Regions from separate parts of the Homo sapiens genome. Here regions 2, 3 and 4 are each linked to region 1. The links come from fine-mapping of genetic effects on gene expression. A gene starts in region 1. Each other region holds a variant in brackets. All regions are shown on one strand. Distances are from middle to middle.

Region 1 (8,104 bases):
GAAGCCTAGAGGGGCAAAAGTAATCAGTTAATGTCCCATGGCCAAAAGCCACAGTTACAACTCAAGTCTCCAAACTGCCCATCAAGGAGCTCTTCTCAGCCCAGTCAGCACTTGTGAGGGTCACGTACCCAGTGGCCAGGGTTTGGTCACACAGGCAGGCCCACCACACACTACACAGGCTTTCTGGGAGCACACTCACAAGACACATGCCTTCACCACGGGCAGGTATGTGTCAAGAAATGCTCCCTAATCACTCACTCACCAGCTCATCTGTCACCTCAAAACTCTCAAGTCTCTCTCCTGCCCCCAGGGCTCACTCTGCTCTCCCTCTGCTACTTGCCCAGGTAGGTTTGGCTCCATGGTGGGGAGTGCCCACATATGGGCATGGGGAGGACAGAGGGCACTGCTTCTCTGGGGCAAAAGGGAGGGTGGGAAAGTGTCCTGCTGTGGGACTGGTAGGATAAATAATTCAAATGCTCTACACAGCCATCAAATCTGCTTTTCCATGAGTACTCAATAAAAGGAAAATTCTGAAGGCATAACAGAAAAAACAGGATACACAAACTTCACCTACGGTTCCCTCCCTCTATTGTTTTAATAGATAAATATGCATATGTGAACAGTGTGGAAGGAAATGCATGTTAAGAGTGGTTATCTCAGCCCAGCGCAATGGCTTATGCTTGTAATACCAGCATTTTGGGAGGCCAAGGTTGGCGGATCACCTGAGGTCAGGAGTTTGAGACCAGCCTGGCCAACATGGTGAAACCCCGCCTCTAATAAAAATACAAAAATTAGCTGGGAGTGGTGGCAGGCACCTGTAATCCCAGCTACCCAGGAGGCTGAGGCAGGAGAGTCGCTAGAACCCGGCAAGCAGAGGTTGCAGTTAGCTGAGATCATACCATCGCACTCCAGCCTGGGCAACAAGAGTGAAACTCCATCTCAAAAAAAATTTTTTTTCCCTAATTTTCTAGAATAAACATGAATTACTTTTATTTTAAAAAGAGTCCAGTAAGTTTCTGGTTAAGGTACAGCAGAATGGTGGACACCCTTTGAATTGTTCTTCCCGTTCTAGAATTTTCACAAAGATGAACAAGCAGCCCATTCTCCCACTCAGTGAAGAGGCTCTCAAGAAATGATCTCCCTCACTGACATCTGATCTTTCCTGAGGACTGATGTGAAACCATTTTTTTTTTTTTGAGATGGAGTTTTGCTCTTGTTGCCCAGGCTGGAGTGCCATGGCCCGATCTCGGCTCACTGCAACCTCCGCCTCCTGGGTTCAAGCGATTCTCCTGCCTCAGCCTCCTGAGTAGCTGGGATTACAGGCATGTGCCACCACGCCCGGCTAATTTTGTATTTTTAGTAAAGATGGGGTTTCTCCATGTTGGTCAGGCTGGTCTCAAACTTCCGACCTCAGGTGATCCACCCACCTCGGCCTCCCAAAGTGCTGGGATTACAGACATGAGCCACAGCACCCAGCCTGAAATCATTCTTTTCTCCAGACATTAACATGATGGTCATCCCATCTCCAGGATTGGAGCCCAGTGGAAAATGTTCCTCTCGGGGCCTCTCAGCCTCACCCCCGCCTTTCCGCAGCTGTGGCAGCTGGGAATAGAACAGGTGGGAATACTTGCAGAAATATTTGCTGTCTTATCAGTCCCCAACTAAACAGTGTCCGAAAGTCAAAGCAACAGCTGAAAACCCGCCAGAGATGTTTTCATTAGACACACTGCATGTGACCTACACACACTGCTTTGGTTTCTTTAAAAAAATTTTGTTTGTTTGTCAGGAAGTTGCTCATGGGGACTCCACAAAACTTTCCCAGCAGTAGTGGAGAGACACGGGTAGGAGTTGAATACAGGAACCTCCTGCGCAAAAACTCAAGAGATAAAGACAGTGTAGCCAGCTATGTTCAAATCCTGGTGCTTAAAGCACTGAAGCCACATAACTGGACTAGCTGCTTAACTCCCTGAACTTGTTTCCTCTTCTGTAAAAAGGTAATAATAAACTATTTCAGTGTCATTGAAATTCTTAAGATCTTAAATTCTAATATTCTGTACAAGATAGCTTTTTATTATGACCAACTCATAAGCGAGATATATGTCATTATTAACATCGATAACAGAGAAAGGCCAAAGTAGGCAAGAGGCAAACCCCCCTTGGGGGGACGGTGAGCAGCTACGGAGGGGAGACAGGTGTGACATTATGCACCACAGCTCCAGGCACCCCAGCAGCAGCCCCTAGCCCTTGCTCCTCCTCCTCCTTGCTGCTCTTTCAAATAGACAGGAACAAGCCACTCACTCCCCACATGTGAACATGCTGGACTCAAGACTTGGCACATGGGCACTTCAACACCAAAGGGTACAGAGTTTTCCCCAAAAACCTGATACATCCATCCCACTTCAAAGCAACATGCCCCCAAGCCCTCACTCCAGTCTCTGCCCTGGAACCCAAGGCTCAACGTGGGCGTCGTGAGGACGCAGCTCTGAGGTGGGGCCAAGAACCAGGCCCCTTCTGCACCTGCGCCAGTCACCGGCTGCCCACAACCACATTCAGGAGAGAAGAACCTGAGGCTCACACACCTGAAGCAGCTTATCCCGAGACTCCAATTACCGCCAAAGGTCTTGGCTGAAGGCCTTGGAGGCTCAGGTGTCTGCAGAATTGGCTACAGAGGCATCAGAGGCTTCCTTACTGGAAGCTGGGGTCGGTCCTAATCAAGTTACTTCGTAGACAGCCTTGGCAACCCCAGGCTGTCGCTTCTGAGTTAAGTTAGTCTACAATCGTCTCTATGGAATGCTCTCAGGTTCTCCATTTGTAAATAGGGATGCAGTTACTTCACTCAACACCGTTCATACCTTTCAAAGGGAATACTTATTAAGGCAATAAACAGGGGTGAGGTCTGCTCGGAGGGATGGACAGCAGATCTAGAAGCCAGGACACTGGGGTCGAAGCCTGGCTCTGCTATATCGTACCTGGGCGACCTTGGGAAAAGTCACTTTAGCTCTGTGGCCTCAGTTTCTTCATCAGTAAAATTCAGAGGGGGGACTAGCTTCTGTCTCAGGTTCCTTCAGCTCCAAAAGCTTGCTTCTGGCTGTCTCCTCACTGCTGGAAATGCCTGATAAAACAGCCAAACACCGCTGCTAACAGAAACCGGCTCTAGGCTTGAGCCTGCGGCCCTGCCCCTCACGTGCGGGCAGAGCCCCCGCGCGCCTCCTTCCCGGGGAAAGCATGCCCAGGACCCGGTGCTAGAGGCCGAATGGACTCGGCGCAACGGAGGTCTCCGGCGAGAGAGAAGAAGAACAAAACGCCCCCGCCTGCTACACGCCTCAGAGACCCACGTGCACCGCTCCTTTAAATGCACCGGCCCTTTAACCGCTCGCGCCGCGCCCACCCCCAGCCGGGGCTCGGCGGCAGGCGGGCGCAGGGAAGTGGGGACGCAGTGAGGCCGAAGGCCTGAGGGCCGCTCCCCGCGATCCTTCCACGACCCAGTTCCGGGCCGGCCCAGCCGCCGCCTGCCGGGCACTCTCCTCTCTCCGCCCCCGCGCTGGCCGCAGAGGCCAGGAGCGCTGCGCACGCAGGGGCCGCAGACCCACAGCCGGGGAAGGGACCGTGGCCAGAGGCGTGCGGAGGGCAGGGCAGGGCCCTCAGGGCGCAGCCCCACCCCGGGCCCTCAGCGCCGCAGGCGACAGGGCCCTGGCCTGGGCACCCCCCGGCACCGCCCGCTCACCTGCTCTGCCGCCGCGCTCCAGCGGAGTTTACGCAGCTGGCTGAGCGCCCGGCCGGACCCGGCGCCGGCCCAGGCCCCGCCCCACGCCCGCCCAGGCCACGCCCGGTGGGCGACGCCGCGTTCCCTCGTCCACTGGGGCCCCACCTGGAGTCCCGGGCGCGCGGGGAGGGTGGCCTTCACGCCGCGTGGATGACAGGGTCATCCCGACGTCGGAACTAAGCGACGACCTTAGAAGGAGTGGAGGCCGGGCCTGTCATCTTCCTGCGGGCCTGGCAGCAGCGTGGGGCGGTAGGACATAGGCTTCGAGGACACTCTTTCTTGTAGTTTTGGGTCCACATCCCCTCCTCCTCCCGGTTGTTCTCACATTAAAGGAGCACTAATGGCCCAATGTGAGCTAACACCATGAGAATGTTCCTGGTCTGTTCCCTAGGGCGCTTCAGAGCCACCAGGAGCTCTGCATAAAATTGAACAGGAATAAATTGCTGCCTGACCTGAGAATTGGCCTAGGGGGTTGTGGTTCCAGGATTTGGGGTCTGTGGGGTAGGTTGAGATTGTCAATAATTTGGCGTTGTCTGAGTAGTTTTACTTTTTTTTTTTTAACTTAAGGTGAAATTCACATAACATAAAATTTACCATTTTAAAGTGGGCATTTCAGTGGCATTTAGTGAATTCACAATGCTGTGCAACCACCACCTCTGTCTAGTTCCAAAACATTTTCCTCATTCCGAAAGAAAAACCCCATACCCATTGAGAAGTTTCTTCCCAATGCCCTCTTCCCCCCCAGCCCCTGGCAATTACCAGTCTACTTCTGTCTCTATATTTACTTACTTTAGATACTTCATATAAACGGAATCACAGTGTGTGGACTTTTGTGTCTTTCACTTAGCATGTTTTCGAGGTTCATCCTCAGGTAGCATGTAACAGACTTTATTCCTTTTTATGACTGAATAGTGTTTGTGTGTGTATATGTATATGTGTGTGCGTGTGTGTGTGTGTATCATGTATGCCACAGTTTATTCATCTATGGACATTGGGGCTGTTTGCATCTTTTGGCTTTGTGAATAATGCTACCATGAACATGCATGTACATGTATTTGTTTGAGAGCCCATTTTTATTTGGGGAGGGTACATACATAGGGGTTGAATTGTTGGATCGCATGGTAATTCAATTTTTTTTTTTTTTTGAGACAGAGCCTTGCTCTGTTGCCCAGCCTAGAGTGCAGTGGCCGCAATCTTGGCTCACTGCAACCTCTGCCTCCCAGGTTCGAGCAATTATCTTGCCTCGGCCTCCTGAGTAGCTGGAGTTACAGGTGTGTGCCACCACATCTGGCTAATTTTTGTATTTTTAGTAGAGATGGGGTTTCCCCATGTTGGCCAGGCTGGTCTTGATCCTGAACTCAAGTTATCTGCCTGCCTTGGCCTCCCACAGTGCTGGATTATAGGCATGAGCCACCGTGCCCAGCCTTCAGTGTTTAACTATTTGGGGAACCCCAAGTGGTTTCCACGATGGCTGAACCATTTTATATTCCTACCAGCAATGTACAGGATCCCAATTTCTCCACATCCTCACCAACACTTGTTATTTTCCATTTTATTGTTATCCTAGTAGGTGTGCAGCGGTACCTCATTCTGGTTTTGGTTTACATTTTCCTAATAACTAATGCTATTAAGCATTCTCCTTTTCATGTGTTTGTTGGCCATCTGTATATCTTCTTTGGAGACATGCCTATTCAAGTCCTTTGCCCATTTTAAAATTGGGTTGTCTTTTTGTTGTTGGGTTGTAAGAGTTCTTTATATATTCTGGACACTAGACCCTTATCAGATATATGCTTTGCAAATATTTCTCTCCCATTCTGTAATTGTCTTTTTCACTTTCTGATGTCCTTTCATGCACATAAAACTTTAATTTTGATGAACTTCAGCTTAACTGTTTTTTCTTTTGTTGTTTGTGCATTTGGTGTCCTGTGTGAGATATCATTGTCAAATCCAAGGTTGTGAAGATTTACTCCTGTGTTTTCTTCTAAGAGTTTTATAGTTTTAGCTCCTATATTTAGGTTGTTGATCCATTTTAAGATAATTTTTGTATGTAGTGTGAGGTTAGGGTCCAAGTTCATTGTTTTGCATGTGGACTTCTAGTTGTCCCAGCACCATTCGTTGAAGAGATTGTCCTTTTCCTATTGAATTGTCTTGGCTTCTTGTCAAAAATCAATTGGCCATAGATGGATGGGGAAAACCAAATATTTTCAAAGAGCTGTTTAAATGCAGATTAACCCTGGATGGAACTGGGGCAGGCCAGCATTTTGGCTAAGAAAATAATGGTCCAAATAATGATCTTTGATAAATTTGAGAAATTAATTACATTTAACAGAATTATAAAAATAATCGATTCTTGGAAAAGGAAGGACACCTGAAGGTCACAAAGTCCAACTCTAACTGATGCATATGAGCCCTTGCTACAGAATTCCTGGGAAATAACTCCCCAACCTGGTTTGTTGTTGTTGTTGTTTTGAAACAGGGTCTTGCTTTTTCGCCCAGGCTGGAGTGCAGTGGCACGATCTCAGATCACTGCAACCTCTGCCTCCCAAGTTCAAGTGATTCTCTTGCCTCAGCCTCCCAAGTTAGCTGGAATTACAGGTATGTGCCACCCTGCCCAGCTAATTTTTGTAATTTTAGTAGAGAGGGGGTTTTTGCCATGTTGACCAGGGTGGTCTCGAATTCCTGACCTGAAGTGACCCTCCCGCTTCGGTCTCCTGAAGTGCTGGGATTAGATTACAGGCATGAGCCACCGCGCCCATCCCTGATTGGTTGTTGTTGTGTTGTTGTTATTTAGCTTTCAGTGTTGCACTTGATAGGCTGAATTTCCCCTAATGTGAAGAGGCTGCATATGCCCTAAGGTGAAGCATAATGACTCAATAAATGAGTTAGGAAGTTGTGATATAATAAAAATAAATATTTGGTCTTTATCCCCGTTCCTGGCACAAGCTTCTAAAACCTTTGGAATCTCAGGTGTGATGAATGTTGTTGGTATGCTAATGAAATGACTGGTGGCTGGGGACCCCTGACTAGCTTCAGGATAGGGGCTGGTGGCCAGAAAGACTAAGGCATGATCTAAACAAACAGAAGACTGCAGCCCTTAATAAGCATTAACAGGATCTGATTTCCAGAGTTACCACATTATAATATTCAAAATGCCCAGGTTTTTTTTTCTTTCAATCAGCTTTTTCAGGTTGAAGTGCCCAGTTTTTGTTTTTTTTTTTTTTTTTGAGACAGAGACTCCCACTGTCACCAGGGCTGGAGTGCAGTGGCGCGATCTCAGCAGCCTGCAACCTCCACCTCCCAGGTTCAAGCGATTCTCCTGCCTCAGCCTTCCGAGTTGCTGGGATTACAGGCACCCACCACCACACCCAGCTAATTTTTTGTATTTTTAGTAGAGACAGGGTTTCATTATGTTGGCCAGGATGGTCTCGAATGCCTGACCTTGTGACCCACCCACCTCGGCATCCCAAAGTGCTGGGATTACAGGCGTGAGCCACCATGCCAGGCCCGAAGTGCCCAGTTTTTAACCAAAAAGTAAATAAATAAATAAAATAGGAAGCATACCAAGAAAAAAGAAAAGTACAACCCATTCACAGGAAAAAGAAATTGATAGAAACCATCCCTGGGGAGGCCTAGACATTGAACTTGCTAGACAAAGACTTTTATTTAAATGTTTAAAAGTTTACTTAAACGTTTATTTAAATGGTCTTAAATATGCTTAACTAACTAAAGGAAACCATGGACAAAGAACTAAAGGAAGCCAGGTAAACAATAAATGTATAAACAGAATATCAGCAAAGAGACAAATTATGAAAAATAAACCAAATCAAAATTCTGGAGCTGAAAAGTACAATAGCTGAAATGAAAATTTTGAAAAGATGAACAACACTGACAAATCTTTAGCTAGACTGAGAAATAAAGAGTAAAGATGCAAATAACTAAAATCAGACATGAAAGTAGGGGCATCACTATGGACCTTACAGGAAAAAAAAAAAAAAGCATTTTAAGTGAATACTGTGAACAACTGTACACAAATGACCAAAACTGACTCAGGAAGAAATAAATCTGAACAAGCTAGGAAAAGTAAAGAGATTGAATCCAATAAGAGGTTGAATCAGTAAGGCCAGGCACGATGGCTCAAGCCTGTAATCCCAGCACTTTGGGAGGCTGAGACGGGCAGATCACGAGGTCAGGAGATTGAGACCAGCAGATCACGAGGTCAGGAGATTGAGACCATCCTGGCTAACACGGTGAAACCCCATCTCTACTAAAAAAAAAAAAAAAAAAGCCGGGTGTGGTGGCAGGCGCCTGTAGTCCCAGCTACTCAGGAGGCTGAGTCGGGAG
Region 2 (8,104 bases), 44 kb after region 1:
GAGACGGGCTTTCACCATGTTAGGCAGGCTGGTCTTGAACTCCTGACCTCATGATCCATTCACCTTGGCCTCCCAAAGTGTTGGGATTACAGATGTGAGTCACCGTGCCAGCAGAATTTCCATCTTTTTTTTTTTTTTGAGACAGAGTTTTGCTCTTGTCGCCCAGGCTGGAGTGCAATGGCATGATCTCGGCTCACCGTAACCTCCGCCTCCCAGATTCAAGCGATTCTCCTGCCTCAGCCTCCTGAGTAGCTGGGATTACAGGCGCCGCCACCATGCCCAGCTAAATTTTTGTATTTTTAGTAGAGACAAGGTTTCACTATGTTGGCCAGGCTGGTCTCGAACTCCTGACCTCAGGGATCCACCCACCTCAGCCTCCCAAAGTGCTGGGATTACAGGCATGAGCCACCATGCCCGGCTCAATTTCCATCCTTTTAAAGGGCAAATCATATTCCTTTGTGGGTATACACCACATTTTGGTGATCTGTTGTTCTGTTGAGGGACATTTGTGTTGCCCCCACCTTTTGGCTATTCGGAATGATGCTGCTATGAACAAAGGTGTGCAGCTATCTCTTTGAGACTGTGCTTTCAATTTTTGTAGTTACACACTCAGAAGTGGAATTGGGGCCGGGCGCAGTGGCTCACGCCTGTAATCCCAGTGCTTTGGGAGGCCGAGGCAGGCGGATCACATGAGGTCAGGAGTTTGAGACCAGCCTTGCCAACATGGTGAAACCCCGTCTCTACTAAAATACAAAAATTAGCCGGGCGTGGTGGCAGGTGCCTGTAATCCCAGCTACTCAGGAGGCTGAAGCAGGGGAATCGTTTGAACCTGGTAGGCAGAGGTTGCAGTGAGCCAAGATTGTGCCACTGCACTCCAGCCTGGGCAACAAAGCGAGACTCCGTCTCAAAAAAAAAAAAAAAAGAAAAAGAAGTGGAATTGCCGAATTGAATGGTCATTCCATTTTTAATTTTTTGAGGAACTGACATACTGCTTTCCACAGCAGCTGTACCATTCTACGTTTCCATTAACAGAGGACAAGAGTTCCAATTTCTCCATCCTCACCAACACTTATTTTCTTTCTTTCTTTAGTTTTTTAATAGTCACCATCCGCATGGGTGTGAGGTGGTATACACTTTTGCTTTTTAGCTTTTATTAAAAGCCTGGTGTCTTTCGGCCACAATCCTTTTCTTCAAAGCCTAACTGGGCACTTCAGTGTTCAGCTGTATATTTCCTTTCTCGAAATATGTACAGTAGGAGTATGTTTTCTCTCTGACTTAGGGAAAACTGAGTTGATGTCTTCAGGTGGGGGAACAATTAGCCAGCAGAGACATCTGCCCCCTCAGAGAGTGCCTGGAATGATTCAGCCAAATTTTCTGACTTGCAAGGGGTCCTTTTCTGCTATTAAGGCTCCTGAGCACCCATCCCAAAGTTGTATGTTCCCCCAGAGAACAGCTTTCCCAGATGGAATCTTGGTGCAGCTGTCGGAGGTGCTTGGGTACCCTTCCAGGTTATATGTTATGTGCATGTGAATTTAGTGATAGGAACCTTGGTCTCACTGAGAAGTAATGAAAAGGGTCTAAAGTCTGTGATGCTAGGCCAGGGGCAGTGGCTCACGCCTGTAATCTCAGCACTTTGGAAGGCCAAGGAGGGTGGATCACCTGAGGTCAAGAGTTTGAGACCAGCCTGGCCAACATGGTGAAATCCTATCTCTAATAAAAATACAAAAATTAGCCGGGCATGGTGGTGCGTGCCTGTAATCCCAGCTACTGGGGAGGCTGAGGCAGGAGAATCACTTGAACCCAGTAGGCAGAGGTTGCAGTGAGCTGAGATCACGCCATTGCACTCCAGCCTGGGCGACAGAGCAAGACCCCATCTCAGAAAATAAATAAATAAGTAAATAAGTAAAGAAATAAAAGTCGGCCAGGCGCGGTGGCTGACGCCTGTAATCTCAGCACTTTGGGAGGCCGAGGCGGGTGGATCACGAGGTCAGGAATTCAAGAGCAGCCTGGCCAAGATGGTGAAACTCCGTCTCTACAAAAAATACAAAAATTAGCTGGGCATGGTGGCAGGCGCCTGTAATTCCAGCTACTCAGGAGGCTGAGGCAGAGAATTGCTTGAACCCGGGAGGCGGAGGTTGCAGTGAGCTGAGATCGTGCCACTGCACTCCAGACTGGGTGGCAGATCAAGACTCTGTCTCAAAAATAAATAAATAAATAAATATAAAAATCTGTGGTTATAGAAGGTAATCATTATTACAACATTATACATTACAGCAATGTATCCTACAATTACGTTGAAGTTCGTAAAACACAAGTGGCACAATTTTTCCTTTTGGAGCCTCAGTCAGGGGTCTTGAGGCGGTGTCCCCAGGGGCACACCCTTTGGTTTCCGCCTCGGAGTGCTCAGCCCCAGCCCAGTGCCTCTGACCGGAGACCAGGGCCGCGAAGCAGCTTGTCTCCCGCTAGAGGGCGCTGGGCTCCTTGGTTCAGATCGTCTTCGGGACTCCAGGGAGGCCTCTGGCTCTCTTCCGGTTTGACTGGGCCTCCCGGGCTCTATTTTTAGGCCTCTGTGTTGGCCTTGGGCGTTCAGACCTGGAGACCCCGCTGAATCAGGGAATAGCGTAGTCTCTCACAGGATATGAGTGGTGACCCCTCAGGAGTCAGGGTCCCTGTGAGGGTGGGGTCACCGTTCACAGAGCACCCAAGGACCACGCAGGGGAGGTGGAGGGGGGGAAGAAGGCCTTTTTCTCACGTTTCGAGATTCGTTCTCACATTCGTTCTCAGACTTTGTTCTCACATTCTTTTTCAAAAGGAAAATAAAATTTTAAAAGAAAAATGCTAGGGACCAAAGAAAAACGTATTCATCTACCTTGACTTCTCCTATGGTACTTCCTGAAAAGTTGAAAATTGTGTGGGAGGCGCAGGAAGCCATCCCTTCTGCTTCCTCACTTGCTGGTGCGACCTCCTCGCAGCGTTTGGGCTCTGCAAGCTTTCAGCGGCACCAGTTCTGAGAGCAGGCGCCCAGGCCCCACCCTCAGCGCTTCCCACTCCATAGAGCCGGGTGTGGCCCAAGAATCTGCCTTTTTTGGCAAACACCTCTTTGGAGTCTCAGGCGGGTAATCCTCAAACCACACTTTGAGGCACTTTCCACGGGGCTCATGTCCTCTGATGCTGTTTGCTTACTTCTTACAGTTCTCACAGAAATTTTACACTCCCAGTAGGAAGCCTCCATGCAGGAATTCCACACGTTTTAGTATTTTAGACTACCGGTTCCTTCTCCTCTGTGCGAGTCCCCAGGCAGGCCCTATCCTGAGTTCTGAAACGTGGTGGTGTCTTCAGCAACCCCTCAGTTCTAACCCCTGCTTCCTCAGTTCTAACCCCTGCTCCCCATTCCCGACCCTCAGCCTCCTACTTCTGATGCTCCG[G/T]GGCTGCCCTGAGCCTGGCAGCCTTCTAAATTTCTTTCATTTATTGCACTGAGCTCTTGGAAGAAATCTTCCCTCCTGCGATAGAAGCCCTTAAGTAAGAGTCTGGCTTTCCGTCTCTTTCCCTAGTATCAGGGTCTCACTCAACTCCAACTCCAGACTCACAAACGCACACATGCTGTGTAGCTGCAACAACTGTGACTGTTCCCCAGGCATACTCCGGCAGCTAGACAACAGCTAATGTTCAGGTTTGTGCAGTGCGTCCTGCTTTGATGGTGCTGGGTAAAAGCTGAGGTCACCGGGCCTGGCGGCTCATGCCTGTAAATCCCAGCATTTTGGGAGCCCGAGGCGGGAGGATCGCTTGAGCCCAGGAGTATGAGACCAGCCTGAGCAACATAGGGAGACCCCATCTCTACAAAATAAATAAATAATGTAGCTACGCATGGTGGTGCGGGCCTGCAGATCCAGCTATTCAGGAGGCTGAGCTGGGAGAATTGCTTGAGCCCAGGAGGTTGAGGCTGCAGTGAGATGTGATTGCACCACTGCACTCCAGCCTGGGCGACAGAGGGAAACCCTGTGTCAAAAAAAAAGCTGAGGTCAACGGATTTAGGAATCAGTCATTACCCCACCCATGTCTGAGACAGCTGGGAATAGAACATATTGAGCAAAAATCCACTTTGGAGGCCGGGCGCAGTGTCTCACGCCTGTAATCCCAGCACTTTGGGAGGGTGAGGCGGGTGGATCACGAGGTCAGGAGTTCAAGACCAGCCTGGCCAAGATGGTGAAACCCTGTCTCTACTAAAAATACAAAAATTAGCCAGGCACGGTGGCGGGCGCCTGTAATCCCAGCTACTTGGGAGACTGAGGCAGGAGAATCACTTGAACCCGGGAGGCGGAAGTTGCAGTGAGCCGAGACCGCACCATTGCACTCCAGCCTCGGCGACAGAGCGAGACTCCATCTCAAAACAACAACAACAACAACCACAACAAAATCCACTTTGGAGAATTTGATGCAGAGATGACAGGTAATTGGGAGAGGGGCTCCTGGCACCTCTGAGACTGACACAGATGGTATCTTTAAGACACACAGCTGGACAAACTACTGCCTCTTCAGCGTGTATGAGAATGCCGGCAGAAGCAGACATCTAATTTCCTCCACTTCCCAGCTTTGATCACCTTCTTGCTCAATTTGCATGCTAATTACTAAGTCTCTGGTTAGCAGCCCCTAGCTATCTGCCCTAGGTCTGCTGTCAAGCTCTCACATCAATTCTGTCACCAGTTTGACTCAACTATCAGGGTCAGCCTCTTGGAAGGGCTACTCCCGAGCCTACAGTCTGAGAGGCCACCCCACCCGCCCCCATTCAAGTATCAACTCCCCAGTGCCAATGGCAGCCATCAAAGAGAGCTGTCTGTCAGCACAGAGAGGTCTGGGGTTGTAGGAAGGGGGCTCACAAGTTGGCCTGGCCCTAAAGAAGGTAGGTACCAGGGCCCAGGTTTCAGACCTTGGTCTTGCATGCCGAGAAACTCTATTTTGTCCATGGCTCTGTGGTGCGGGGACTCAAGAAGCTCACAAGAGAATGATGCATAAAGCCATCACTTAAAATGAGAAATAAGATCAGATATTTGTGTCCGCATGACCAACCAAACAGGCAGGGGCAGGGCGCCGGGGGCTTTCCTTGGTGGTCATGGGTCAGAACAAGTATGGCAAGAGGTAGATTCCAGTGGAAATGGCACGGCTCTCTGCCTGCATTCAGTCAGCCAATACTCAGCTGGAATCTTCCCCATGGCTACACCAGTTATTAATGACTGGCATCTGTTCAAATTTGTCAGTGTCTTTGCCACATCAGACCAACTGTTGTAATATCAGTTACATATTATTGCCATCACCTTTAACAATAGGTGCACATACACCTGCTGGAAGAGTTGGTTTTTAGTAGGCTGACAGCATTGTCTCTCCCCTAGACTGACTACACAATTCCTTAGGTGAAGTCCTGATTAGATAAGTAAGCAACAAGAGGAAGGGGCCCCAGGTGGGGAAGAACAATGAACAATCATTCTGAGAAACACAAATCAGAATCACAAACAATGGCCTGTTCTGGGGGCACAATGTCCTCATTCAGCACATAGCCCCCTCCAGCACGGCCCTGTAAAATTTCCCTCCAGGCCCCCACCTCTTGGCAGACAGACGCTTCTCTGCTGTGCTGCCCATTGCAACGTTGCAAGGTATTTTCATACTTCCTCTTATAATCCGCCTTTCTTTACCTACAACTGTCTTGGTAAATTCCTTTACCACCTGCGACCATGGCCCCAGCTAGTCGTACCCGTGCCATATTACACTTTAAGAGGTTCTATTCATTGGTTAGCTACCAGCACCTAGCACATAGTAGATGCTCTATGGCACAAATCAGCGTTCATGATGTTGAGCTCAACCGACTGCTAATGCCTGGATGGACTCTGCCAGTTTGCCTCCATGCTTCCCTTTTCCGAGCCTCCATGGTTGACTACTCTCAAAACTGTGACATTCTTTCCTTGCATCTGCCAGACTCAGGTGACCTTGCTGGCTCAACAATGAATATTTTACTGAGCACTTATTATATGCCAGGCTTTGGGGATATGGCAGTGGATAAAATAGTCACAGTTCCTGCCTGCTAAAGTCTCACATCTGAGGATGGAGTTAGGCATTAAACACAGGAGATGAGGAATGTGGATGGAGAAGGATCCAGGCTGTGGGAGCACGTGGGAGACGGATGGGGTAGTCTCCTGGAGGAAGTGATGTTTCAGCTGAAGTATCAGTGAGTTGGGGGAAGGGAAAGGGGACAGGGGAGGTGAGAAGATGAGTAATTCGGGCACAGCAAACAGCCTTTACAAAGACTCACATATGGGAAAGAGTAAGTTGGGTTGGCACAGCAGGAACGGAAGAGGTGGGCCAGAGATGAGATGAGGATTGGGAGCATGGTGGCCAGGGGAACGCACCTTGTAGACCTCTAACTCTGGGCAGCAAAATTGACCAGGGGCTCCTGCCACTCACACCAAAGCCAGGCTTCCCCTAGGGACAGAAATCCTTTGTCGCTAGCTTTGGCTCAAGGATTCCATGGTGGTTTGCTGAACTTTCCTTAGACTTCAGGGTCGGCAGACTACGTCTACCCTCCACTCTCACCTTCCCCTTCCTGTGGGGCCAGACTCACATCACACTGGATGGGTCTCCCAGACTCCTGCAGCTCCCTTCCACATTTCTGTCACAATTTCCCCAGAAAAAACCCTTGCATGCAGGCGTGGTGGCACACACCTGTAGTCCCAGCTACTGAGGAGGCTAAGGCAGGAGAATCACTTGAACCCAGGAGGCAGAGGTTGCAGTGAGCCGAGATTGCGCCACTGTACTCTGTGTCTGCTTCTGGGAGGATCTGAACTAACACAGGAGGCTTTACCCTAATGGTACTGTAAAGCCATTGAAGAGCTTTAAATGAGGAAGTGACATGATTAGATTAAAGCTCAGTCTGGCTGCTGGGTAGAGAATTTGACAGAGGGGACCAAAAGTAGGGGCGGGAAGGCCCATTTGGAGGCTGTTACAGTGATCCAGGTGAGACGGCTTGGAGTAGGGTGTGGGAGAGGAGATTTTAAGCTGTGGTTGAATATGGGAGATACTTAGGAAGAAAAGATGGCACTTGGTGTTGGATTGAATGTGGAGTGTGAGGGAGGAATTGAGGATGATTCTAGGATCCTGGCTCATGGTACAAGAGGGAAAAAGCTAGAGTTTGGGAGTTGTATCCAGCTCTGCTTAGGGAAAAATGCAGAATCTGGCCTGTAGAAAGGTGAGTTCTGTTGTCAGTCAGGATGGCTCACTGTCTTCCCTGCTACCTGGGTGAAACACCCCTTGGCAACACCCACCGCCAAGTTCATGTTCATGTTCATGTTCACCGAACAGCATTCTGATTGTTCATTTGGCCACACAGGTGTTCAAACACCAGGCAGACCCTTCTGGAAAGGAATAGTGCCTGATAAAAAGGAATAAATGAATTCATTGGAATTCCAGTTTATCCGACAATGTCGCCGGTATCTAGTGGTTCCAAGCTAACATCTCCAAGTCTGAGATACTGGCAAGGATGAAGCCCAGACTCTGGTAAACTCACCAGAGGAACTCTGGTCTCAGGGCCTTTGTGTAGACAGCCAGCTGGCCTTCCTTAGAGACACACCAGGGCAGGCTGAATAATGACCCCGAATATGTCCACACCCTGAATCTCTGGAACCTGTGACCATGTTACCATATAGGGGACTGTGCAGGTGTGATTGAGTCAAAGACCTTGAGGTGAGGGGGCTCATCCTGAATTATCTGGGTGGGGCCAATGTAATCTCAAGGGTCCTTATAAGAGGGAGGCAGGAGGATCTGAGAGAGTAATAGGAGATGTGATGACTGAAACAAGAGGGGCCATGCAAGGAAGGGGCCAGGAGCCAAGGAATGCAGAAGGCCCCAAGGAGATGAAAAGACAAGGAAACATTCTCCTAGAACCTCCAGAAGGAATGCCAGCTTGCCCACACCTTGGATTTGGCCTAGCAAAACTGATTTTAAAATTCTGACCTCCAGAACTACAAGAGAATAAATTTGTGCTGTTTTAAGCTACTGAGTTTGTGATAAGTTGTTACATCAGCAGTAGGAAGCCAGTACACTCCAGCTGCACCATCTCACC
Region 3 (8,104 bases), 150 kb after region 1:
GTCTCCCGCCTCTGCAGACTGCTGGTTAACCCCAAGAAGCTGAACGGAGCCCTGCAGGTTCTGGGTCCTTCCTGGCATCCTGTCTTTGGCATTTTGAACTGGCCTAGATTTTCTGGTCAGTCACCATTGGCCTCAAATACCACATTCCCAGGGGAAGGCAGGAGAGTCTCCTAGGAGTTGGAGTGGCAAGGAGCCCCAAGGATCCATGTTGTGCTTGAAGGGCGAGTGCCCTGAATGTACCAGGTGGCAGGTTGCTAGGAACCTTGAGCCTGGCCTCTGACTGTAGTTTGGGAACACTGACTTTGCAAAGAAGACTTGAGCAACTTCAGAAAATAGTTTATGGCTGGGTGCGGTGGCTCATGACTATAACCCCAGCACTTTGAGAGGCTGAGGTGGGTGGATTACCTGAGGTCAGGAGTTCGATTCCAGCCTGGCCAACATGGTGAAATCCCGTATCTACTAAAAATACAAAATCAGCTGGGTGTGGTGGTGCGCGCCTGTAATCCCAGCTAATCCTGAGGCTGAGGCAGGAGAATCGCTTGAACCCGGGAGGCGGGAGTTGCAATGAGCCCAGATTGTGCCACTGCACTCCAGCCTGGGCCACAAGAACAAAACTCCATCTCAAGAAAAAAAAAAAGAAAGAAAAGAAAAGAAAAAAAGGCCAGGTGCGGTGGCTCACGCCTGTAATCCCAGCACTTTGGGAGGCTGAGGCAGGTGGATCACCTGAGGTCAGGAGTTCCAGACCACCCTGACCAACATGGTGAAACCCCGTCTCTACTAAATACAAAATATTAGCCAGGCGTGGTGGCGTACGCCTGTAATCCCAGCTACTTGGGAGGCTGAGGCAGGAGAATTGCTTGAACCTGGGAGGCAGAGGTTGCAGTGAGCTGAGATTGCACCACTGCACTCCAGCCTGTGCAATAAGAGCGAAACCCCGTCTCAAAAAAAAAAGAAAATAGTTCAGTATGACCCCATGACCAGATGTCATAAAAGGGAACATAAGTTCCCCATAAAGGTATTTAAAAGTCAGTTGCCCAAAGGATAGGATGGAGGAGTCCTGGCTCATCAATATTTCTTTTATTTCTTTTTTTTTTTTTTTTTTTTTGAGACAGAGTTTTGTTCTTGTTGCCCAGGCTGGAGTGCAATGGCGAGATCTTGACTCACTGCAACCTCCGCCTCCTGGGTTCAAGCGATTCTCCTGCCTCAGCCTCCTGAGTAGCTGGGATTACAGGCATGTGCCACCACGCCTGGCTAATTTTGTATTTTTTTTTTAGTAGAGACGGGGTTTCTCCATGTTGGTCAGGTTGGGCTCGAACTCCCGACCTCAGGTGATCCACCCACCTCGGCCTCCCAAAGTGCTGGGATTATAGGCGTGAACCACTGCGCCCGGCCAATATTTTATTTTATTTTTTGAGATGGAGTCTTGATCTGTCGCCCAGGCTGGGGTGCACTGGCATGATCTCAGCTCATTGCAACCTCTGCTGCCCGGGTTCAAGCGATTCTTCTGCCTCAGCCTCCTGAGTAGCTGGGATTACAGACAGGTGCCACCATGCCTGGCTAATTTTGTGTTTTTAGTAGAGATGGGGTTTCAGCATCTTGGCCAGGCTGATCTTGAACCGCGTGATCTGCCCGTCTCGGCCTCCCAAAGTGCTGGGATTATAGGCATGAGCCACCACGCCCGGCCGCGCCCGGCCAATATTTCTTTTGAAATTCACTGGGAGTTATAATTTTACTACCAGTTCAATATGAATTAACAGGTGGTACGGCTGTAAAAAATACTAAACAGTCTTAGGATGCACAATAATAATAAAAATAATAGCAGCAATGATTTCAGAAGTGCCTATTATGTGCCAGGCATGTTCCGTCAAATACTTTATGTAATTTTTGCAGGGCATTCATTATTTTCCTCCTTTTAGAGATGAGGATGAGACATATAAATTGTTAGTCCCAAGCCCACAGCTGATCAATGGCAGGACTGGGATTTTAACTCATCTGAATCTCCCAAGTTCCTACCCTGTCCTCTCTGCCACCCATCAGCTGTCGCCTGGAGAACAGAGGAAGGTGGCTTTGAATTTAGTTCTGGGCCTTGTGCTTTAGGGGGACTGGGGACTAACTGAACTGAATGCAGAGGTGGATGGGTGGAGCAATGGGGCCTCTGAACCACAGCCCTGGGAGGTGGCTGAGGGAATTAGGATTGGTTGTTGCCGTGGAAATACTGGACCCCGGGGGAAAGAGAGTGTGTTCACATAGGTCCCCTGGAGTACCGTTTTAGTCTAGTTAAAAATTTTCTACTTGAGGAGGTGGAACTAAGAGTGGATTCTTTTCCTTATAAATGAATGGGCCTTTGTTTAAAAAAGGGATGTAATAGATGCAACTGCAGCAAAAGTGAGCTCCTGGAGCTGCCTCCTTAGGCTGATGAACTGGAAGAGAACTCTTAACCCTAAAGGGCAGGAAAAGGTTAAAGCTCCTCATTGCTGCAGACATAGCAGGGCAATAAGCCCCTGATAGCAGAAAAGGGGAGCACCCCAAGGCACTCACTCTGTAATCCGGGTCCCCAGGGACTCAGCCTGCCTCCCACAGGGAGAAGGGCAGATCTGCCCACGGGAAAGAGGGTTTCAGCAGATACAGAGCATGGATCTGCACGTGTCCAGATGCCTCAGGCCACCCAGAGAGAGCATCGTGGGCCTCTGTGCTGCGTGGGGCTTGCTAGGTACTGCTATACTGTGAAGCACCCAGGCAGCCTGGAGCTGCACGGCCTGCGCATGAGTCCAACAGGTACAAGCTGTTGTGGGCTTATAATGTCAGCACCTAAGCAGGAATTGAATGCAATCGAGTTGAGTTACCTGCCTCCAGGTAAATTAAGTTAAATCCTCATTTAAATTAGGAGACATGGGTGAGGGCCTAAAGGGGCCAGGACACAGAATGCCCAGGCTTTCAATAGGTGATATTCTCAATAGGTGATAGAGGTGAAGGGTGTGGCACCTCCCTGGAAAGGAGCACAGCTGCGGTCACCAAGTGAGGCTGTGGCCTCCATCGTAAAGGCCATGTGGGGCGGCAAGTGACCGACCACAGGGCACGGTAAGTCAGCAGGGAGCGACCACCAGGATTCCTTACCAAAGTTGGATTCCTCAGTCTCTGCTATGCTACCCTCAGAGATTCAGATTCAATTTTTTGTTTTGTTTTGTCC[C/T]GCTCTATTGCCCAGGCTGGAGGGCAGTGGTGTGATCTTGGCTCACTGGAACCTCTGCCTCCTGGGTTCAAGTGATTCTAGTGCCTCAGCCTCCCGAGTAGCTGGGATTACAGGCGTACGCCACCACAACTGGCTACTTTTTTTGTGTTTTTTAGTAGAGACGGGGTTTCACCATGTTGCCCAGGCTGATCTCAAACTCCTGGCCTCTAAGTGATCTGCCTGCCTCGGCCTCCCAAAGTGCTGAGATTACAGGCACGAGCCATCGTGCCGGCCCCCGATTCACTTTTTAGGAGGGGACATCTGTGTCATTTCCAGGTCTGGCTATTTTGAATAAAGCAGCTGTGAACATTCGTGTACACATTTTTGTGTGATGTAAGCCTTCATTTATTTGTGATAAATGCTCAGGAGTGCAGTTGCTGGGTCGTACAGTAGTTGCACATTCATTTCATATTTTACGAAACTGCCACACTGCTCTCCAGAGTGGCTTCACCATTTTACATCCCACAGCAGTGTATGAGTGCTGCAGCTTCTCCACATCCTTGCCAGCGTTTTATTTAGTAGCTAAGTAGCTACTTTTATTTTAGCCACTCTGGTAGGTATGCAGGTATGCAAGGCCATCTCATTGTAGGTTCTTTCTGTGTCTTGTTTTGTTTTGTTTTTTTTGAGACAGGGTCTTGTTCTGTAGCTTGCCCGGGTTGGGGTGCAGGGGGCAATCATGGCTCACTGCAGCCCTGACTTCCTAGATTCAAGGGATCCTCCCGCCTTAGCCTCCCAAGTAGCGATTTATAGGACAACAGGTATGCAGCACCATGCCCAGCTAATTTTAAAATTATTTTGTAGAGATGGGGTCTTGCTGTGTCGCCAAGGCTGGTCTCAAGTCTCCTGGCCTCCCAAAGTGCTGAGATTATGGGAGTGAGCCACCACGCCAGCCTTCATTGCAGTTTTAACTTGCTTTTCTCTTTTTTTTTTTTTTTTTGAGAAGTCTTGCTCTGTCGCTCAGGCTGGAGTGCAGTGGTGCGATCTTGGCTCACTGCAAGCTCCGCCTCCTGGTTTCAAGTGATTCTCCTGCCTCAGCCTCCCAAGTAGCTGGGACTACAGGTGCCCGCCACCACACCTGGCTAATTTTTGTATTTTTAGTAGAGACGAGGTTTCACTATGTTGGCCAGGCTGGTCTTGAATTTCTGACCTTGTGATCCGCCTGCCTCGGCCTCCCAAAGTGTTGGGGATTACAGGCGTGAGCTACCACGCCCGGCCAACTTGCTTTTCTCTAATGGCTGGCGATGTTAATTTTTTCACTGGCTTATTTACCGTCTCCTTCTGTGGAATGATCTGGCTTAGAAAATGAACAATTCCACAGAGGTGCTATAAAAACGGGCAGGGTGTCAAAAGCCTTGGCCTCCTGTTTGGGCTTTGCCTCTCAGGGCTTCAGGTGAAGGTGTTTGGTCATCTCTGAGGTCGCTTCCTGCTCCCAGTGTCCTCTGACTCCAGGATAGAGTCATGCCCCTTGGCGGGCAGCCCGGTGGGAGCTGTGGTGTGTAGGAGGCCCGGACGGCGGCCCCTGCCCACATGCCATCACCTCCCAGCTCCGTCTCCACAGGAGCTTACCCAGGCTGACTCACAGGTGCTGTATTATTTAAGGAAAGTTGTTTATTGATTGTTGGGGCCTGGAAATAAAAAGAAAAACAAAGAAGCAGATGCAGAGTGTCTCCTTGCCACCTCCCTCTGGGCGCCTCCGAGATGGTGGCTGAGGACCAGGCCCCACTCTGGGTGAGGCTTCCTTTCCGCCACTGGTGCTTCCCTTTGTCTCTCTGCAGCCTGGGCCTGTGCTTTGGGTTTAGTTTTGCAACATAGTCATGCTGAAGGTCCCAGAGATGCTTCCCCTTTTTATTGTAATTAAGCCAAAAAAGAAACATGGGGTATGTAATTTAGAACTACTCATAACCACAGAGATGGAAGGAATTTTCTCTTTAAAGCTAGCACTAGATTTCACCTTGCACCCTAGGCCACTTGCCCATGTCCTTGCCATCTTTTAACTCCTGTCTCAGGAGGGGGCAGCAGAAAGTAGTCTTGAGAGTTAATGGGATTGCTACTAGTTTGAGTACCTGCGGGAGGATTTGGTCTCCATCGAGAAACAGGGGAAGATGTCATCTGCTTAAGAAGGTATTTATGTTTGTTTTTCTGCCCGGTGATATACATGAACCCGGTAGTGTGTGAAATAAAGCATCTTAGTCCTCATTTCAGTGAATCAGAAGAAACTAAAAGGCATGGTTATTTCTCCCTCGGTATGATGAAGTCTATATAATATTTGCAAAATCTCCTTTGGTGAATTTGTATAAACAATCTATCACAAAGAAAGTATTGTTTTCTATATGGGCTTAAAGGATTTTTGGAAAATGGGCAGAGGATTTTCCCATGTATTCCCTGAGCCTGGGGAATGGAAATCATCTCATGGAGACAGATGACCACAGGCTTTCCACCCAGTCCCCGTGGCCCACTAGAATTGTCCAGCATGTTTCAGTGGTTATTTGATTGGGCTCAAGACCAAAGTTGGAACTGAATCAAATGATGGTTTGGTTCAGAATATTTTTCCGTTTTGGTACGTTTTGAAAACCTAGGTTTGATGCTGGTTGCAGTTGTTCAACAGATTTTTTAAAAAAAACTTTGAGTACAACACACACTGAGGCCTTTTGCGGGTGGAGGTAGGGAAAGCATCAGGATAAATAGCTAATGCATGTGGGACTTAATACCTAGGTGATGGGTTATAGGTGCAGCAAACCACCATGGCACTTGTTTACCTATGTAACAAAACTGCACATCCTGCATATTTATCCTAGAACTTCAAATAAAATAAAAACATTTTAAAAAGAAAATAAAAAGAGAAGATTTTTAGAAAAAAATAAAGAAAAAGATTTTAGAGCCACAGAATCTCTTTTTAGAGTATGGGAAGAACAGAAATTCTCTGGGTAGAGCAATTTTTGACAGAAGATGATTTGGGTTTATATGAGATATACAAAACTATTCTTACGCATTTTTACTGCATGCCACAACTTGGGATTTCTTAGTATTTTCCACATCAACCACACTACTTTAAGTCGTCTGGTTAGAAGTGTATGAACATGTTATAAGCTCAGAAAATGGCATGTAAAAGCAATAGAGGGCCAGGTGCGGTGGCTCACGCCTGTAGTGCCAGCACTTTGGGAGGCCGAGGTGGGCAGATTGCCTGAGGTCAGGAGTTTGAGACCAGCCTGGCCAACTTGGCAAAACCTCATCTCTACTAAAAATACAAAAATTAGCCGGGCATTATGACGGGCACCTGTAGTCCTAGCTACTCAGGAGGCTAAGGCAAGAGAATCACTTGAACCTGGGAGGCGGAGGTTTCAGTGAGCCGAGATCTTGTCACTGCACTCCAGTCTGGGCGACAGAGCGAGACTTCATCTCAAAAATAAATACATAAAAATAAAAGCAATAGAGTATTACAGTGTGAATCAGGAAATCTTGCACGTTTTGAAGGTTTCAAATGACTTGGTTTAATAAAGAAAGAAAACTTGTAATACCTAGAAAATTGACGTTGAATGGGAAAAATAAAACAAAATATTGCTATACAAAAACCTCTTGTTACATTCCTGACTCAATCTGATATTTGTGTTTGGTTTATTTGAATACATAAAATATATTATGGCCATTGGTGAGTAGTTAGTTCATTTTGATTCAAGTTACTTCTCCAGATGGCATCATTGTTATAAAATTTAATTTCCGTGAACTTACATTCTTCCAGGATGGTTGTGTGTGTTGATCTTCTGGTTTCTTAAATCTTCTGGGTCAGAGTTACTATACTTGCATTTGTGCTTCGCAATGAACTAGAATAAATACTTTCTATTAAAACCAGCAGAGGTTTTGCTAAAGAGAATGCACGCACAGGCCTTGTCTTTTTGGTGCAAGGTAGAGGGTTTTATCTACTACCTGCGACTAACTAGCTTTCAGAAAAGAGTGAACTAACGCTTTACCCATGGAGTTCACAAACGTTCATGGTGTACTGGCAGTAGGGATACATGTACAAGCATAGCTTAGTTCCTACCTTCTAGGGATTCGAAGTTTAGTAGAGGAGGCAGATTGTAATACCTAATACCTATTATGCTTTTATTATGTGGTAGTCATTGAAGGAGAAGTTAAGTGACATGTCTAAAATCATAGTAATAGAAGAGTCAGGCTATGAACCAAGATATTCTTAGAGTTTCTCATCGTTGGCATTTAGGGACAGATACTTTTCAGTTGTGTGGGGCTGCTCTGTGTACTGTAGGATGTTTAGCAGTATCTCTGGTCAGTAGCACCTCCCCCCATTTGTGACAACCAGATGTCTCCAGACATTGCCAAATGTCCCCCATGGGGAGAATCGCCCCTGATTGAAAAGCACTGCTCTAGAGCCTGCTCTTGTGCCCACCACTCTGTACTGTCTTCCCAGATGAGTGAATGCTATGGGAGAGAATAAGCATGTTTACAGTGTGAAGTCCCAATTCCTGCTGACAGCAGAGGACAGATGCCAACACTACCTAGGGTGGTGGAGAAGAGAAATATTCTCAGATATGGTGCCATTGGAGTTGAATTTTGAAGGGATTCACGTAGTCAGAGAAAAAGGAAGACTATCTGGAGTAAAGGGATGTGTGTGCACAAAAGCATGGCAGCAGGAGGAAGCAGGGCAACCTTGAGGATGACAGGTAGTTTTCTATAGACCCTTTAATTTACTCTTCAGTGCTGTTCTCTTGTTTCCTCTGTTCAAACAGCAAGCCAGGGTTACAGCAGCTCTTCATGTCATTCTTACTTCAAATCAAAGGTGTTGTGTTAGTCAGGATGAGCTAGGTTATGTTGCAGTAACAAACAGCCCCAGAATTGGCAGCAGAAAACAAGAAAGGTTTATTTTCT
Region 4 (8,100 bases), 24 kb before region 1:
CCTGGGCGACAGCGCGAGACTCTGTCTAAAAAAATTAATAATAATGAACAGAGAAGGAACCTTGTACAGCCAATACACATATGAAAAGATAATTATAAAACCTAAAGGAAATGACACCCATCCAATCAGACAAGATGAAAAGTCTGATGACACCAAGTATTATAGAGTTGGGGAACTCTCAGATTGCGGATGGAAGGATAAACAGACACATACTTGGAGGGTAATTGGGAATGTCCAGTCAATTGGGGGAATTCCAATACTTCCTCAAATCCACACAATGTGATGGGATGCTCACTGCAGCACAGCTGTAATACAGAAACACTGCAAAACCCCTACAGGTCGATCAATAGCATATAAACAGTAGAACTCATACAATGGAACACTATACAATAGTTAAAATAACTGGGCTGGGCACGGTGGCTCACGCCTGTAATCCCAGCACTTTTGGAGGCCAAGGTGCGTGGATCACCTGCAGTCAGGAGTTTGAGACCAGCCTGGCTAACGTGGTGAAACCCCGTCTCTACTAAAATACAAAATTAGCCAGGCATGGTGGCGGGCAACTGTAATCCCAGCTACTCAGGAAATTGAGACAGGAGAATTGCTTGAACCCAGGAGGCAGAGGTTGCAGTGAGCCAACATCACGCCATTGCACTCTAGCCTGGGTGACAAGAGCAAAACTCCATCTCAAAAAATAAATAAAATAAATGAACTGGAGCTACATTTATACATGCCTCCAGAATGCAATATTTTAAAAAATTATCAAATATGTACAGTATGATACCATTTCTGTAAAGTTAAGAAAACATGCCAACATACAAAACAAAACTAACCATAGATGAGAAGGGCAGAAATCGACTTCAGGACAGGAGGCGGAGGCAACAGGACTGGGGCCACATACAAACAGGACTTCAGAACGTGGGTTTTATTTCTAAAGACAAATCTGGAGCAAATATGGAAAGATATTAGTTGACGGGTTACACGGGGGAGATACAGGTGTTTGAACACCAGTACCCTGCTCTTGTTCGGCATGTTCGAATGCTGTCTTTTACAAATTCTCTCATTTTTCTTCTTTGCCATTTGTGTTCTGGGTTCATTTGTCTCCCTGCTCTCTGGGGACCTCCAAGTAGCATCTCCTCCAGTGTCTTTGTTCTCTCCAATGCTCTTCCCTCGTCTTCTCACATGTCCTTGTTTTCTCAGTCTTAACACTTCACCCTAACCATCACCAGGCCCCTTCATTTCTTCCTCCCTCGCTGTCTACTTAAGGGCCCCCAATTTCTGCCTTTACCTCTGAATGTGGTCTCCACCCAGCAACCCTTGGCCAGGCCTTTGAAAGACCTCAAGCTTAATGATTCAAAATATATGTCCAATCCCATCTTTGGAAACCCCACCCTAAAACTGCTCTTCTGAAGATAAACACTGCCATAATTGCCAAATTGAATAAGCTTTTCAGTTTTTCTTTCCCCTTAACCTCTTGCGAGTTGTCACCATCAGGGACCATCCCTGTCTGCTTTACCCGCTCCCCGCTGTGGCTTCCATGACGGCAATGCCCCCCATCCCAGGTCTCTGACCTGCACTACTAATCAGTGGGATTCCACCCGCCAGTGTTCGGCCTCCTCTGTCCTTCCTTCTTAGGGCACCACATTTTCCTCTGCCCTTCCTCAAACAGCCTGGGGGAAAGCAAGCTCCTGTCAAATGTCAAGATACACAATTCTCATTCCTCTCATAATAAAGATGCATTGTCCCGGCACTCATGTTATTCCTGGAACAGGGAGACAGGGGTACCAGTTTGAACCCCAGGGCACACTTGCGTCTTCTCAGCTGTCTGATATACCTAACACCTGCTTGATCTCGGCTCATTGCAGCCTCAGCCTCCTGGGCTTAAGTGATCCTCCCACCTCAGCCTCCAGAGTAGCTGAGACTACAGATGCATGCCACCATGCTTGGCTAATTTTTAAATTTTTTTTTGTACAAAGTCTCACTATGTTGCCCCGGCTGGTCTCAAACTCCTGGGCTCAAGTGATCCTTCCGACTCGACCTCCCGAAGTATTGGGATTACAGGTGTGAGCCACTGTGCTCAGGAAGAGGCACTTCTGAGATTCTCTTTGCAACCCATGATTGATGTACAGAGAAGGCAAAGCCAAACTGTCCACTCTCCCACCACAGTGCCCAGGGCCAAAGCCAGAGAAGGAAAGGAGAGTGGTTTCTGAGCTCAGGCCCTCACAGGCTTCTGCAGAGGGTGAACACTTGCTGAAGGAACCACTGGATGTTTTGGCAACCACCTGGCAGTGTCTGTGCCACCGTGCACAACTGAGTCCAGGGACCTGCTCAGCATCCACAGCCTTACAGCTCAGGGCTGGCAGATGTCAGGCCACCCTGCTCTCCTAACTCCTTTGCTTAGGAAACTTTCTAGTTAAAGAAATGTGTGCAGAGAGGCGAGATCATTAAAAGTTCCTTCAAACAGGGCAAACTGCCTCCATCCTGGGCTCACAGCACAAGTTATCCCAGGGGTGCCCAAGATGCAGGGAGAGGGGTCAACATTTACAACGGACCAAACTCCAAGATTCTAACAGGACTCATCTATTTATTGATATTACTATTAAGCCACTTCCCAGCAGTGTGACTGCCGTAACAAGAACAGGACTCAGTTTCTAAAGGCAATAAAATAACAAGGACATCATGGACAAAGCATTGGGAACACTCCTCGTAGGGAACTGGCTTTTCCTCTCCAGCCAGAGCACCCAGGTGCCAGGGGCCACTCCCGAGCACACTCTTTGCGCATCTCAGCCCTCATGCCGGATGCTCTTCTCCCCGCCCTAATCTGACCTTCTCAGTTCATCTGGATAAACCTGCTGTGCTTCCTGTCCGTGAAGCGAGGCGCTCCCCAAAGCGGGAGCCAAAGTCTGGTGATGAAACAGCTGGCACCAAAGAGCTGGTTCTGCCTCCTCCTCACCAAGTAAACACGTACTTTATTTTTTAAGGAAAGAAAAGTCTTAAAAATATATGGCACTAGAGTGTAAAACTATACAACTGCATCCAATGAAAATTCCCTGCAGCTTGCAGCCTGTGGCACACCATGTCCCTCAGATGTAGAGCTGATGGGAGGCCAGGGTGTCCATGAACGGCCGCACCAGGTTGTCCGTGGAGAAGTAAAAGATGAGCCCGAACGTGATGGAGATGGGGAGGGCGGGCAGCGCCTTCTTGAACACAGCAAGCAGCAGGAGGGTCAGACACAAGCCCTGCAGGACATGGAGGGGAGGGTGAGCGTGGTGATCCCTGGTGTGGACAGGAGCTGTGAGTCATGGTCTAGTCCCTGGGCACAGGAGCTTGTTCGAGGACCAGTCGGATAACGGCGCTAGACACCCCATTATCTTCCCTGGTCCTGCAACAGCTCTTGAGGTGTTAAGGGCAGAAGTTCTCACCCCCATTAGATCACCTCACCTGTTAGTGAGTGAACCAGAAGGCAGGCCTCCTGACTCCTGGAGCAGTGCTGTGCCCCGAGGCCGTGCTGCCTCCCCTGTCTGGCTGGAGTGGTCACATGGGATGGTAAGATGCCCTCAGGGAACATGTATTTATATGAGAGCTAGGTGGGCTCAACTGAAATGGCAGTAAGGTTCTCAGCAGCTGGCACCAAGGGAATCAGAGCCGCCAGGCAACCTGCCCCTGGGAAGCAGGTGTGGGGGCTGCCCATCCTCCCCTGACCCAGCTGATGCAGGCAGTGGTCCAGGTGAGCACAGGGAACCAGGGTGCCTTCTATATCTTTGGGGCCAGCAGGGCTCAGGTAAGGCAGTCTGGTGGTGGAGGAGCCTGGGTCCACCATCCCATCCCTGATATACTTGTGGGCAAAAAGAAAACCTTCTGGACACTGGAGCATCAACCTTAATCATGCCATGCCCAGGGTTTTCACTAAGGGGCAGATGCCAAGCGCACGGCTCAGACGCTCCTCCTCCTCTAACGTGACAGCGAAATCTCTGAGATGAAGTCACGGCAGGACGTCTCCCCATTATGTGTATCTGGTCACGTTAACTGACTACAGGGCCTCCACATTTCACTGCTGTGGTTCACAGTAACGGGGCCACCCCTAGTGCCCCAGATTCAGACCCTGTGGTGTCCCAATGGCATGGAGGAGGGGGAAAACATGGTCCTCACTAGCTTTGCGCCCATGGGCAAGGCCCTTAAGCAATTTTCTTTTCTGCAAATCTGATGTCATCACAACCACCTCGAGGGTATCATCACTGCGCAAAGCTGTCAGCTGGGTCCTCGGCCTGGAGGCTGTGTGCTCAGCCACGCTGGGGCCGGTACACTCCTCACCCTCCCCTGCACTGTCCTCCACAGGCTGGAGCCCACCTAGGGGCGAGCACACCTCCTGTGAGCCTTGGTCTCAAGCTGACCCTTCCAGCCCCGCTCCCTGCTCTTGTCCCTCAGAGGGAAGAGAAGAAATGAAAAATCCCTAGGGATCCTGAGACCTGCCCCCACCACAATGAGGACCCTGGGGGCCCCCACCACGAGGCAG[C/T]TGGACGCATCCCCAGCCACTCACAATGAGGATGGCCACGAAGCAGGCCAGCGTGGTATTCCAGTCCCCGCTGCCCGTGGCAGCCGCCTTGCCCACCAGCACACTGTAGAAGATGAAGTCCCCGAGGCCAAGCTTCACGCCCCCTGTGTGAGGAGAGACAGTAACCCGTACTGAAGAGGCGTGCACAGAATGGAAAAAGAAGAGAAACTCTGGCCCAGAAGGCCCAGCTGCTCTTGCCCAGCCCAGCCCACCCCACCTGGCCTCTAGAAGCTAAGATGTGGACTGGGGACATGGACAGCTGCCTCCCCAAATCAGTGGCCAGTGGGAAAGCAGGGGACACCTGTGGACTGGGTGACTTACAACCTGGGCAGAGAAAAGCGGGCAGTTCTGAAACTCAGGTAAAACCAGTGTTGGGCACTTAGAGAGTAAAGAAAACAACAAATAGAAATGCAAGGCCTTGGGCTGGGCACTGCTGTACAATTTAGTATGAAGTCTGAATCACAGATTTTTAGGGAATTTAATTTCAGTACATTCAAAAGCCCATATAACACCAAGACAGAGGTCCTCTGAAGAACCTTTCACCTTACAACAGGTAAATATAACTGGGAATTAGTCTACCCATTACTGATCAGGAAATTAGAGCTTCCAAAATGCTCTCGTTTGTTTTCTTTAGTGCAATGGTCCCTGACACTTGTTTATAGGATAACTTTGCTCACTGTAGACAATAAAAATGGTTATGCAATAAACACAAACCATGGAGGCCCACCTCCCCTGCCCTTCCAGCCCTGCAGGTGTCCCTCCTGCTCCTGGCCCCAGCTGTCCTCCTTCCCCCACCAGGTGTGATCCATCAGCATTACTTCTTCACTGTCTCTTCATTTGGCTGGTCCTGAGTTGCATCTCTTATAATAAAACTAATTTTGGCCGGGTGCTGTGGCTCAGACCTATAATCCCAGTACTTTGGAAGGCCAAGGCAGGTGGATCACTTGAGCCCAGGAGTTCGAAACCAGCCCGGGCAACAAGTCAAAACCTTGTCTCTACTAAAAATATAAATGAGCCAGGTGTGGTAGCACGTGCCTGTAATCCCAGCTACTCAGGAGGCCAAGGTGGGAGGATCACTTGAGCCCAGGAAGTCAAGGTTGCAGTGAGCCACAATCGTGCTACTGCACTCCAGCCTGGGCAACAGAGCGAGACCCTGTCTCCAAAACAAAACGACAACAAAAAACAAACTGCAATTTTAAGTGTAGTGCTTTCCTGAGTTCTGTGAGTCATTCTAGCAAGTTATTGAACCTAAGGGGGTCATGGGAGCCCTAAATTTGCAGCCGGTCAGAAGCACAAGTGGCATCTAGACCCTCTAGAGCTTGTGGCTGGTGTCTGGAGGGAGGCCAGTCCTGCGGGCCCCGTGGGATCTGTGCTAACTCCTGGTCTGCAGCACACCAGTTGGCCTTGGAATAAATACCTCCCCCAAGCCTGCCTGGAGGGTGCGCACCTGCTCCTCCTTCCAGACCCACCGCAGAGTGATCTTTCCCTAGCTTGCCCCTCCCGTGTCACTGGAGTCCTGTATGCCAAGCCACTGTCACCAGGCTGCTCCCGTAAGGCACCTCTCAAGGCAGGGGCTGTTACGACAGTGCAGCATCTCCCTGCTCCAGGGTGCTGCCTGGCACGCAGCAGTGGGCTGGCATTGGGTGTTAGGCAGGCACCGTGTACTGACGCCAGGATGAACTCCTATCTTCGCATGTCTCCAGGCCTGTTTGCAAGGCTCTCCCACACTTCTGCTCTCTGCATCCCGCCCCGGCTTCCTCTGATTCCTGAGTCTGTCTGTCAGGAAATGCTCCCCACCCTGTGCTCCTCTCCTCTAGTGACTGCTGTGACTCAACCTTCAGAGCTCAGCTCAGCAGTTACTTCCTCAGCTGACTTTCTCTCACCCCTGCCAACCAGGTCAAGAAGCCCCGTGGCATGCTCTCCTGCCGCCCCTCCCCAACCCCATGGCCCCCTTCATAGTCCTTGGCTTCTCAGTCTATGTGATTACTGCCCGTGTCTCCTTAGCCTGTGGGTCCCACCAGGGCTGGGCCTCACCCAGCACAGCACGGGCACGTGGCCCATACTCAATACATGCCGGACAACTACATGGGGCCTGCTGAGAAGACCCCAGCGCTGCAGGCATCTTCTACTTTCACAGAGATGCCTCTGATGGGAAAAGGGGCCCCTCCCCTCATGCCCTCCTCCACCCAGGCTGCAGGGAGCCTCCACCCTCTGTCTCCGCTCCCGCCGTAGGCTGAAGCAGGCCGTGTGAACATGGGCACCTTACTTTCCTCCTCTTCCTCCAGCTCCTCCCCTGGGTAGCCAGTCAAGGGAGGCTCAAAGACTTCGGGGTATGAAGGCTCCCCAAAACTGTCATAGGAGTCTTCTTCTGGGTGTCCAGGAAGAGAAGATGTCCGTCATCACCGTGAGGAGGGGACAACAAGAGAGAGAAACAACAGCTGGTCAGAGTGTTACCAGGGAACAAAGCTCCAAGAAGGGGTCCCCCTGAGCACCAGCACCTGACACCAGGGCTTCCCCCACTCCACCCACCCACGCCCAGCAGAACGATGCAACAGAGGCTGGCAGAGGACCGAGGGTCCAACACTTGCTGAATCTTCAAGCCGCATGTGTCCGGCTGGTTTTCAACGGACCTTTCCCTCTGCCCCTCCTGAACTCATGCCTCTCAGGGAAGCCAGGCCGAGCAGAGCTGGGTGCAGGTAGGGAGCTGCCCCCCAGTGATGAGAGGCTGTTAGCTCCCCAAGATACTCACCCATCTCCGGGTCGTAGGGGAGCTGGAGGGCACCCTGAGAGGAGGGGTCCAGCTTCGCCATGCCAACCGTCCACACCATGGCAGCTGGGGGAGGAGAAAAGGTTCACATCTCAGGCGGTGCTAACAGTGGCTGCCTGCAGGGCCTGGGGGAGGTGGCCAGTCTGCGTCCCAGAAAGCCTGCACAGGACCCTCCATCCTGCAGGTATCTGCTCATGCTCCATTGTTAGGAGGCCGTTGTGGGAGGGGTCCAGAGTCACTCTCTCTTGCATTTGTCTATTCTGTTACTGTTTGTCTCCCCTCCTAAAGCATAAGAACCAGGTCTATCAGAGCCAAGACCTCACAGTTCACGGGTGAATCCCCCGAGCCCTGGGACACTCATGACAGTCCTGGCACTACCTTTCCATACATGGTCTCCGCTCATCCTCGGAATGCGCCTGGAATGTGCTTTCCCGTGGGGCCACGCTGCAGGCGATTCTCCTCTACGGGCTCGAATCCTCAACTGCATGAAGGTACCTAGAACTCTGTAGCTGTTCCATAAACTCTTTCCCAGGCCACCTTGCAGACGCCAGAGCTCCAGAAATTCAGGCTATTTAAGCCCCGCCATCAACAGACCGAGGGCATCACAATCACAGGGCCGTGAGCTCCATGAGGCCTGGGACCCTGTGGTCTTCTTTCCTGCTGGGTCCCCCAATGCCTAGCACAGTGCCTGTCACAAAATGGGGACTTGATGTGCCTTTGTTGACTGCATGTGTAAGTCCAAATCTCTACACATTGACCCCGAGGCCAGGGGCCATCCCGTGTG

Alleles and levels. Positions count from the first base shown, and alleles are read on the strand shown. Sizes are in standard deviations (SD) of each study's normalised expression. Not every link is listed here.
For the expression in gastroesophageal junction of the gene that starts at base 3,758 in region 1, allele T in region 4 goes with a lower level than allele C (moderate effect, 0.45 SD a copy in GTEx).

Evidence for each region. PIP is the estimated chance that this variant, and not a neighbour inherited with it, causes the effect.
Region 2: its variant is fine-mapped to the expression of PSEN2 in whole blood (TOPMed, PIP 0.95).
Region 3: its variant is fine-mapped to the expression of PSEN2 in whole blood (TOPMed, PIP 0.95).
Region 4: its variant is fine-mapped to the expression of PSEN2 in gastroesophageal junction (GTEx, PIP 0.92).

Annotation. Positions count from the first base shown.
Region 1 is chr1:226,866,270-226,874,373 of GRCh38, reverse strand. It overlaps PSEN2 (presenilin 2), which reads right to left and starts at 3,758. Exons shown (of 13, transcript NM_000447.3): 1 at 3,725-3,758; 2 at 2,970-3,112. It overlaps LOC105373119 (a long non-coding RNA gene), which reads left to right and starts at 3,824. Exons shown (of 3, transcript XR_949226.4): 1 at 3,824-4,012. RefSeq lists silencers at 3,296-3,345, 3,356-3,955.
Region 2 is chr1:226,822,611-226,830,714 of GRCh38, reverse strand. LOC124904530 (a long non-coding RNA gene) reads right to left here and starts at 3,015. Exons shown (of 2, transcript XR_007066909.1): 1 at 2,870-3,015. RefSeq lists enhancers at 2,333-2,627, 5,467-5,606. The variant G/T (reference allele first, on the strand shown) is at 3,426.
Region 3 is chr1:226,714,350-226,722,453 of GRCh38, reverse strand. All of the region lies in intron 2 of ITPKB (inositol-trisphosphate 3-kinase B), which reads left to right. Among named protein-coding and RNA genes, the nearest start is that of ITPKB, 21 kb to the left of the region's middle. RefSeq lists an enhancer at 4,263-4,762. The variant C/T (reference allele first, on the strand shown) is at 3,188.
Region 4 is chr1:226,890,560-226,898,659 of GRCh38, reverse strand. It overlaps PSEN2 (presenilin 2), which reads right to left. Exons shown (of 13, transcript NM_000447.3): 10 at 7,299-7,382; 11 at 6,816-6,917; 12 at 4,535-4,653; 13 at 2,562-3,236. The coding sequence ends at 3,081. Among named protein-coding and RNA genes, the nearest start is that of PSEN2, 24 kb to the right of the region's middle. RefSeq lists a silencer at 2,535-2,766. The variant C/T (reference allele first, on the strand shown) is at 4,511.